Linked DNA regions of Homo sapiens: region 1 is linked to region 2. Evidence: fine-mapped expression QTL. A gene starts in region 2. The other region holds a variant in brackets. All regions are shown on one strand. Distances are from middle to middle.

What was found. PIP is the estimated chance that this variant, and not a neighbour inherited with it, causes the effect.
Region 1: its variant is the best candidate, but not a certain one, in a credible set for the expression of PRDM1 in cerebellum (GTEx, PIP 0.58).

The regions. Positions count from the first base shown.
Region 1 is chr6:105,492,694-105,498,073 of GRCh38, forward strand. No RefSeq gene overlaps it. Among named protein-coding and RNA genes, the nearest start is that of PREP, 92 kb to the left of the region's middle. RefSeq lists an enhancer at 2,883-2,952. The variant C/T (reference allele first, on the strand shown) is at 2,593.
Region 2 is chr6:106,083,378-106,088,757 of GRCh38, forward strand. PRDM1 (PR/SET domain 1) reads left to right here and starts at 2,959. Exons shown (of 7, transcript NM_001198.4): 1 at 2,959-3,218; 2 at 4,824-5,072. The coding sequence starts at 3,177. RefSeq lists enhancers at 1,340-1,409, 2,587-3,306.

The DNA.
Region 1 (5,380 bases), 590 kb before region 2:
TGACCCTGTCCGGGTGGGGGACAGTGAGGTCCTAAGACCCCTTGTAGAATACTGGAAAACAGTTGGTATGACCAACATGAAGATTTGGCTTTCCTGACAAATCCCCACATTCTGCACTTGACAGATGAATGCAAAGGTCTCTATTTCCAAGGAAAGCAAGCTAGGAGCATGTGATCCCTCAAGGCCACTTTGTGATTCACTGGGAAAACAAGATGAAATCATCCCATTTCCAACTATGGAACCAAGATGAGCCTAGGCATTTTTAAGCCATTGGCAGAGCTGTCTTCTTTATTTTCTTTGCCTGACCCCATCCAGCTCTGATACCTCTTGCCATACATAAGCTGGACATATTTAGCCCCCTAGAGAGAAAGGAACATTGGCTGGGACAAAGTCCCTACCCACCACACCCACCCTCCTTGGGCAGTCTTGTTATCTCTCCTTGGAGTGTGTGATTTAGTACCACATGACATTAAGATATGATAACCTGAACTCTCTATTACTTTGGGAAAGACTACTGAGAAAAAAAAAAAAAAAGCTTGTTGGAATAGCTCTGTTGATTATAGCTGTGTGGGGTTATCTTGGAAGAGGATGGAAAATAACCCAGAGCCAAGACTTGTTTTGGATGGCTAAAGTGAAGTCAAAAATAGATGAAGATCCACCCACATGTTAAGAAAATCCTTAAAGTCCTGACACCCAGCAAGGCTGTACTAAGCAGTTATCACCTACTTTTTGTTTTCTGCTTCATCAGCTCTCTAATCCTGCAAGTTTCATTATTAGGATTTCCTGCTATACTTTTAGTTTTCAGTTACAGATTGACTGGGGACTGCCAGTATGTCTGGCCTACTGATGTTTGCTGGTAGATTATCCTTGTAAGAGTTACTATTGTAAGGGAGCATTTTTTAAAAAGTAAGGAAGAGTGGCAATTCAAATAAATTCCACTGCCTCACTGCTTGCCATGGTCTGACAACTATGAATACAACAGAAAGGCTCTTTTGAAACAAACTTTCTTGTTAAAAAAAAAAAAATTTGCAAATGAAACAAAGAAGCCAACAAAACAAAACAAAGCAAAACAAAAAAACACAACACCCCATGGTTGAATTTACCAACCTGAAGAGTTCAGACGTTGCCCAAGTCAGGGACTGGTAATTGACATCCAGTTCAGGGGTTCATTTTCCCTTTTCTCAAGATTGAATGGAACTCTCTTTTTAAAGACTTATAATTTACTGTCTAAAATTGGAACGGTGACAAATTCAAAGCAGGGTAAAAGGAAGTCTCCAAAACAATAGCACTGAAATTATCCCAGAGCTTTTTCAATTGTGAGAATTTAGTGCACCTGAGTTGCTAGACTCACTATAGTGGCAGCATGCCTAAGTGGTATATTTTTTAATCTAAATCTAAGGAGGTGACCTCTTTTGGTAGAATGAACATTGATGGTTTTTTTTTTTCTATTTTGCTGAAAATATTCTACAATATCCCAGGGATTTTCAGGGAAAGCACGCTCTATTCATAAATGAAAATAAGAGCACATATTCCAGTCCTCAGTACAAAGCTTCAAGGACCATTGTTGAGCATTGGCTATTACCAAGTACTATGCTACATGCTTTATATACATTGATTCATTTGGTCTTCACAACAGTCTGCTAGGGGTAGGTACGACTATTACTTCTATTTTACAGAGACAGAAAGAGGGAGGTTAAGTAACTGGTTTAAAGTCATCTGGCTAGTGAGTGACAGAGTCAGGATTTGAACCCCGGTATTCTAACTCTATTGCCATACTCTTAACTACTTGGCAATACCACCTCCTAAAAAAAGTGAGTGGCCTAGCTTCAAGGACATTAGGTCCTGAAGGCCTAGTAGGAATTGAGTTTTGGTGCGAAGCCACTCAGCATGTTCGATTTTAGAAATGGAACCTAGTATTCTACTGTTGAATACGAGGCAGGCCAGGTAAGTTAGGTTTCACTGCATCCTAGCTATGCGGTTGATATTCTCAATTCTATTTAGTTTTATTCCCAATCTGTCTCTGAAAATGATCGAAGTACTTACATGCAAATATACATCCTTCCTTTAGGCCTCTACAGAACTCCAGTCTCATTTCGACTGCCTTCTAAATATCCCTACTTGCTTAAGCCTTCACGCATCTCAAATACCTACACTGAGCTTCCCAGTCCCACTTCAACAGCTCTGCATTCCAACTTCTCTGTCTCCATAGTGGTGTCATTCAGTCACCCACACTCTAAACTAGCTCAGGATCAGTTTTTACTCCCCTCTTTCCCGCACTGTTTCCTGCCTCAACCCCTGCCCCAAGCAAACATGCAGTTAGTCATTAAGTCCTGCTGATTCCCTTTGCCAAATCTGTTCTTTCCGATTCCTGCTGCAACAAATCAAATTTCTAAAACCATATTTTGGAATAAATTTCCCATGAGTTGGCCCACCTTTAGGCTTGCTGTCCTGAATATAGCCACCAGATTAAAGTTGAAATTCAATGCCTTTGACAGTGTTTTTGTTTTGTTTTGTTTTTGTTTTTTTTCCTGTGCTCTTTTGTGTGCCAGGCACTAAGTTGGAGACACATCACTGAATAAACAGACAAGACTC[C/T]TGCCTTAAGGAAGCTTGCTAAAGTGTCCAAAATGACTACATAACTTCCCTGGTTAAAGCCAACCAAAGCAGTAAAGTAATATTCAAAGATTCTCTATTTCCTCAATTTAATGGCAAAATCTTGGTTTGGAAATCAAGTTCCTCCACCATTTGGCCTCACTTTCCCTTTTCCCTTGCTCTTCATCAGCAGGTGCTCAGCCTTGCACCCAATACATTCTGTTTATTCTGTTTCCCAACACAGTGATTCTCTCACCTCCCTGCCTTGCCCTTGCTGTCCTTTCTGCTGGGAATAGCTCATCTTCACACTTCTCTACACAAATATTTCTGCTTTCCACCACCGTGGAGTTGTTTGCCTCCACCACGGGGCCAGATCAGGAGATACGCATGTCCCTTACTCACTTCACTGCTGTGGTCAGGTCTTGCCCGGATCTGGGGCAGGAGGGATTTAAATAGTATATAGCCTGACACTTTGTGGTAGAGAAAGTCCCTTTGTGACAATTTAGCCTGTTCACCCCCCTCAGCTCTTGCTTTGGTTCTGAGGCCCATCTTCACCCTCAGTTCTGGTACCTGAGCCTGTGCCTCATTTCTGTTTTCTGCGTCCCTCTTAGGGACCCCTTACCTCACACGTTGAACTCAGCATCCCCTTCATATAATCCTTCCCTTAAACTCCACCCCTATGACTGAGACCCCAAGGTCCCAAAACACTTTTGCAGATTCTAACAGCCTACCTGCCTCATTGAAAACTGGAATATTATGGTTCATTCATTCACCAACAATAAATGTTTACTGGAGCCTTCCTGTATGCCAGGGCCTGACCACATAACACATGGCAAGAACTATTCCCCATTCTCATGATGCTCACTCTCTCATTGGGGTAAGTGGTTAAATAAAGAAGCAAAGTAATTTTGGGGAGTGAGAAAGACTATGAGGAGAGTCAAACGGGCTACTGAGATGGAGGCAGGGACTGGCAGAAGCTGGTTTAGATGGGGCGCTTAGGAATAACATCTCAACTGAGATTGGAACGACGAGAAGGAGCCAGCCAGCCATGTGTAAAGCTGAGTAGTGTCCCAAGCAGAGGAAACTGCAGGTGAAAGATCCTACTGTAATCACCAGAGACCAAGGAGAGGCCAGCAGATCAGGGCAAAGGAGGGGAGAGTAGTAAAGAAAGTAGGGCAGCAGGGGCCAGAGCAGGGGAGACCTTGTTGCTGTGTTCCTGAGAAGTAGTTTTGTTGGATTTTCCCCAGTTGCCAGCTGCCTGGCTCTGCAGATCTTCTGCACTGTTTGTCTGGCTTACGTGCTCCTAGTTCCTTTTGGCTTGATTTGTCCTTCCTCGTTCCCCCTGGACGTGCCCCATTTTGATGGCAGGGTCTTGGATTCCCATCACTGTCTTTCTCATGGTCATTAAGTGGGCATTGCCCAGATAACACGTCCAAGGTAAGATGGTGCCCATCCAAGTTCTCCCTGGTCTCTAAAGCCTAATTCCCATATAAGTTTCTTTAGGACATTTTCCCAAATGATCATAGCTGGAGAAAGATCTAAGGCAGTAGCCTGGCTTGGTCTGAGCCATCACCCAGCTTTCCTCACATGCTCATTTATGCTTTGGTGTCACTTTCCTTTCCAGATTTTATGCCTCTGAAAATAGGAGCTGTCTCTGGTACAATTTTGTTCCACCAGATTAATAGCATGGTGGCTCGTTCTCAGTAGCCATGGAAATGTGTTTTGGAGAATAAACTATTTGTGGAGCTACTTGGCTATTGTCATGAGGATTAAAAATATATGTGAAGCAGTTGGCCATGATGACATGCTCCTCTAGTCTGAGCTACTCCAGAGGCCGAAGCAGGAGGATCTCATGAGCCCAGGAGTTTGAGGCCAATCTGTAAAAAAAAAATTATGAAGCATCTAGAAAGGTACTTGGCACATAATAGGTTCTAAATTAATGATAATATTATGATCATTGTCATAGTTGAGTGACTTTGGGCGTAACTCTTCCGATTTTTTAGTTTAAATGATACTGCTGGATAGAATGATTTCTAAAATGTTTTCTAGCTCTAAAACTTGATCATGGCTTGGATGAACACCTTGAAAGCTCTCAGGAAGAGAAAGAGTCTTTGCCTGTTGGGTAACTTTTCCCTAGTGAGAAGGCTTGTAGGCATTTGAGATTCTTTTATGGCATCAGTGATAATGTACAATATTTTCAATAAGGAAGCAATTATACATTTTTAATTTATTGAGTAGTATATATTTAGTAGTATTTCAGGCATTTTGAGAGTAGAGACAGTGATAATACTTTTTTCAAATGTGCACCTGCAATAGCAAGTGTTGTCAAAGGTGTGGAGAAACAGAAATTCTCATATACTTCTTACGGGTATATACATCAGTACAGCCTCTTGGAAGTGCAATTCAACGATAGTGAGAAAAGGAAAAGATGCACATATTGTATGATCCTGCAATTCTACCCCTAGAGAAACTGTAGCACATATGCACAGAGGCTTTTTCAAGAATATTCATGGAAGCTTTGTGGTAAAAAATCTGAAGCAACCCAAGTGTCTCTGAGCAGGAGAAAGGATAGATTGTGTATTCAAATACAAACATGAAAATAAATGAGCTACATCTACAAAGCTTCATATGGATAAGTCTCAAAAGCATAATGTTTAGGGAAAAAGCAAATTGCATAATCATAATATAGTATGATAAAAAATAAAGTTAAAATCATACAATATATAGCTATGGATATAAACAGATAATATAAAAATGTAAGGACCGGCATGAAAAACACCAAATTCAGAAT
Region 2 (5,380 bases):
TTAGGAAAAAAAAGTTCCTTTCGAAAAAAAAAATTTTTTTTCCCCAAGTGGAGTTCAGGTCTCCAGATTTGGTGCTCAATTTCCCTTCATTCTACAATAGTCCTTTCCCTATAGAGTCATCTGGCCACCAACATTGCAATTCCCAATCCACCCAGGAACTGGGAGAGGAAAAAAACTGGCCCAGTAGCTGAAACCGAATTAAAATTGGCTGATGGAACTGTTGTGATGATGCCATCCACGGGAATAGATGAGAATTTCTGAGAACAGAACTATTTGGCTCATTCATGATTTGCTGCCATTGTGAACACTTTTAATGTGAGAGCTCTGCCTGAGAAATGCTGATTAATAAAGATAACTGAGGTTCTTTTCGGTGTTCTAACTTGGGGGGAAATAATATAGTGACTAAAAATGCACCAAGTTATTACTTAGAAACAAACCCTTTGAGACATAAGATTCCAGACAGTGGCAGCCTCTGATAGCTCTCTCTGCACAGCTGTACTGCTGCCAGGGTCTCCCAGCTTTAGTCAGCAGTAAAAAGGTGCACTGCTCAGGCCCTCTGGGAGGACCGAGTGAAGTTCAGAGGTCAGTCCCTTTTATTCCCCCTTAATGGTTTTGTGCTGGACAATACCTAAATATTACAATATGGACATGTTTTTTCCTATTATGGAGCAAGCTTCCTTTCTTTTATTTCTTCTTCCTTTTTGGTAGCTTTCATTTTAAATGATGATATCCATCATTGACTACTATAATCATAGTCAAAAGTTGGTTTGGAGGTTTTTTTTTTCCCAATCACTTTGAGACAAGAAGCAAACATGTGAAGGACTTTACATTCCAACACTCTGTGTCTGAAAATTTACTTTCCTTAAAGTTCTACCCGTGGCCTTGTCCAGCTCAGCTGGGACACCTGGAACTAATTTTAGGGTTGCCTGGCTAAGCCCCACACTGGTATTTGAAGTTTGCGTCCTCCCTAGACTCAAGCCCATTTCACCACCTCTGAAGGTGAGTGCAGGCTGATATTAATTAACAGTGAGTTGATTCACTGGCATCTTCCAGTCATTAAAGCAAATATTTGGCTTAAAATAGCCTTCTTCCCACCTCAAATATCAAACTTTTTGCCTATTCCCTTACTCTATCATGGTTGACTCACCAGCAGTTGCATGATGGTGTATGTGGCCTAAGAACAGAGTTTGATTCTAAAAGGGAAGTGAAATACTCTTTAACATCTGCAAGTGAGACTGTTTGAACAGCAGGCCAGCCTTCAGTATGACTACATTGTTTTTCTGTCCATTGTGGTGCTGACTCAGCATCAGTTAATAAACCCTCTTGAGCAGGCTGGATTTCTCTTGTTTAATTATCAGCTTGGAGCTTTCTGAGGACTCTTAGGAATTGTTCATTCAGTTTTCCACCCCCAGCAGATCTGCCTTCTAAAAGTCCTGCTTCCTCTTGGTGCTAGCGTCCCCTCTGGCATAACATGCAATCACAGGTGGGCCACGCAGCAAGCAGCGAGTGTGTGCTAATCATGTCCCCTAGTGGGAATTTAATTGTTCTGTACTGAGAGAGAGATTGCAGCAAGACTTTAGACACCATTTCCTGGCAAATAATCTTTTGCCTCTCCCCCTCTCCCCTAAAAAAAATTCTAGAAAAGTTTTCTAAAAGTGAGAAAAGAAATTTTAAAGATAAACAGACATATTTTTTAGGATTGAGTTGGGCTTTTGTTTTGCTTTGTTTCATTTCTTCCTGTAAACAAATACTCAGATGTCCATTTCATTGTATGACTAAGTTGGTATCATTAGGTTGGAACTGGGTGTGTGTATGTGGGTGTGTGTGTGGGTGGATGTGTGTGCACACGTGTATTTAAAATGTTAGAAAAGACATTGCAGGTCGAAGGAGAAATGATTTTAAAAAAACCTACCTATGGTAAGGCAAGCAGGAAAAATGGAAGACCTGGATTTCAATGATCTAAATAATAATTGAAATGGGGTGTTTGCTATAAACATTGTTTCTCTGAATTAAAGGATTCCTTGCTGAAGGCACAAGACCATTGAAGGAAGTAAAGCATCTGGTTTGTTTTGTAATGAGAAGCAGGAATGCAAGGTCCACGCTCTTAATAATAAACAAACAGGACATTGTATGCCATCATCACAGGATGTCCTTCCTTCAACAGAGGACTGACTGGGCTGGAGGAAAAGCTGGCCGGGGCTCAGAATAAGCCCCACTAATTACTGCCTCCGACCGCTTTCCACTTGCAGTGATCAGTTCAATATTCCTCTGAACTGTGAAACGACTAATGCTCTACATTTTACTTACACTCCTGGGAAGTCAGCCTGTGGGTTCTGGGAGGAGAGGAAAGGAAAACAAACAATCTGTAGAATTATAACTTTTGCCTATTTCCCTATTTACTAAATAGTTAAAAGAGGAAAGTTAGTTCTGCCAAGTTTGAACGTTAGCAGGAGAAACGGAATGTTACAACTTTTGGGGCGGGGGGCGGGGAAACGTGCGTTACATACACAACAGCTTGAGGACCAGACAGCTCCACTGTATTACACTAGCTGCAAAAACAATTTAACTTGCTCTTTTGAAGTAAGATTTGTGTCTTTTGTACCTGGGGATTTGAGCTGAGAAATCAGAAACTGTGTAGGTAAATTTTAAGTTTCCTTAATTTAAGGAACGTGCGCCCCCTAATTCTGCCGCGCCAGGAAGGAGGGCGATCTGGAGTGTTTAGAATACAATAGAGCCCAAGTAAGCGTTGAGGTTAAGTGCCTTCAAAGGGAAGTAAGAAGATTCCAAGTCAATGTTGAAATACACATGCGAAGAGAGGAAGCTCTCGGCGGCTGTGCTAGCAATCTGGGGGAAAGCCCTGGGCTCGGCCAGGTGGTGTTGGCCACGTTGGCCACGCCCCCACTTCGCGCAGCCGAGTGGCTAAGGAAATCTTAAGCAGGGAGGGGAAGCCAGACGGTTAACACAGACAAAGTGCTGCCGTGACACTCGGCCCTCCAGTGTTGCGGAGAGGCAAGAGCAGCGACCGCGGCACCTGTCCGCCCGGAGCTGGGACGCGGGCGCCCGGGCGGCCGGACGAAGCGAGGAGGGACCGCCGAGGTGCGCGTCTGTGCGGCTCAGCCTGGCGGGGGACGCGGGGAGAATGTGGACTGGGTAGAGATGAACGAGACTTTTCTCAGATGTTGGATATTTGCTTGGAAAAACGTGTGGGTACGACCTTGGTAAGGAACTTGAATTTTTTTTTTTTAATTCTGAAATTGATCTGAAAACTTTATTTTCTTTTCCTTTATTGTTATTATTATTAATTTTTTTTGGCTAATGTCGCAGTAGAAACATGCTTCTGCTTTAGTGCACTTAGTGCTGTCAAACATTTGTGAGACTTTCCTTATGAATCATTAACCCTTTCAGTTCTAGACATAATTGCCAATTCATTGAAATTTCAGTAGTGGTTCCAGCTCACACTCGTCAAACTATTCCGGGTTGGCTGAAGTTTTCTATTTTATTTTATTTTTAACATGTGTTTGGCGTCATGACTCTACATGTTGGAACTAAATAAAAATAAGCAGGTTTGCTTAAATCATAACTGAGGGAAAAACAACTTTGCATCCAACTTTTTTTTTTTTAAGAGCATCCTATTTAGAGAAGTGGAAGAATGTAAAAACCTCCTTGAAGGACTTCCACAGAATGTTATGTTTACATTTGAACAAACACACATTCTTACATGGAAATGATACCCATATTCCTCATTTTTATCAAACATGTCTATATGAGAAAACCCTTACAGAAGTTGTTTACCTTTTTTTGCCTTTGGAAAACAGTTTTTTTCTGAGTGTGAGGGAGGATTTTGGGGGAATATCCTCATCAATGTACAAGTGGAAGCAGAGCTTGTCCTCCAAGTCTTCTAAATTTGTTATAACTTTAGTTACAGTAAACTGTAGTACATCAGTGACTTCTGGGAATTCATACACTTTCAGATTTAAATGGAAAGTGCTATTTGTAGCTGAGGACTCCTAAAGGAATTCTCTCCAGGGAATTTTATTAAACGGTTTTATGTTTTGTTTTTGCCTTTTCAATTTGGTATGAGATGCTTGCAAGTCAGAAGACACTGCAGGCTGTTTTCCCCTTCACCCATTTTTCCTCCTCTTTTCCTGTGGTCCAAGTGATTTCTAAGAGGCCGTAGCTCAGTGATGCTGGCAGGATGCAACCCTTTTCAGTCTTCCATGTGAGAGGATGAAAGAGAGCTCGCAGCAGAGGGAGGAGGCAGTTGTTTTGAAAGTTGTTTTGCGTTGGGAGCTGGTGGGAAAGTTCGGTCTTCCCCATTTGGAAAAGGCAGGCTGGGTTCCGCTCCTGCACCACACGCGCTTTCCATTTTTAGCTTCATTCAGAGGCAGACAGAGCTCCTTCCTCTTCCTCTCCTTGTTTGTGACACTTTTCTGAGGCAGCTTTTCCACAGTGCCGAGGGTCTGGCGGCCATGACCCCAGGCATTCTGGGACACTGGACTGTGTGCCCAGAACATTTTTCTGCCATGAGAGGTAAAGCCAGGGATTGTTCAGAGGTGATTCTTTTTTTTTTTTTCCTTTTCCCCACAGTGAGGTTGCCACATTCTTTTTTTTTTTTTTTTTTTTAACTAAGAGTAGCATTTAAAAACCTTGCTTCTTTTCAAGGCAGTTTACTTTATACGGCTTCTTGGCTCTTTCTCAACTGTACCAAGCACTCTGCATCTGCTTTTAAAGTCTTCAGACTACTGTATTAGTCATAGCCTCTCAGAAGGAGCCACAGGAACGGCGGGACAATGGGGATTAAAGGCCTTTCCTTTCTCTTCCAGGCTGCCCCCAAGTGTAACTCCAGCACTGTGAGGTTTCAGGGATTGGCAGAGGGGACCAAGGGGACCATGAAAATGGACATGGAGGATGCGGATATGACTCTGTGGACAGAGGCTGAGTTTGAAGAGAAGTGTACATACATTGTGAACGACCACCCCTGGGATTCTGGTGCTGATGGCGGTACTTCGGTTCAGGCGGAGGCATCCTTACCAAGGAATCTGCTTTTCAAGTATGCCACCAACAGTGAAGAGGTAAGCCTCTGGTTTATTGACAAGAAGATTGGGGACCTGGTGCCAAATCTCCCTACTTGCCCTTGAGGCCTTGTATATCTCTGAAAACCTCTGAGAATCTGTAAGTATCAGTAAATAATTGATTGCTCTATTCAATTCTTGCATTGCTTTCTCTTTCCCTAAACCATTTCCTTCTCATTTCTTCCAGCCTTCAACTGTTCCTCACTAATTAGTAAACAGTTAAATATTTTGGCAAATTGGCATGTCTTAGAAAAGCAACTTGCAGCATAGGGTGGGTGAAATTGTCAGTGAACTTCAAGAAAGCTCTG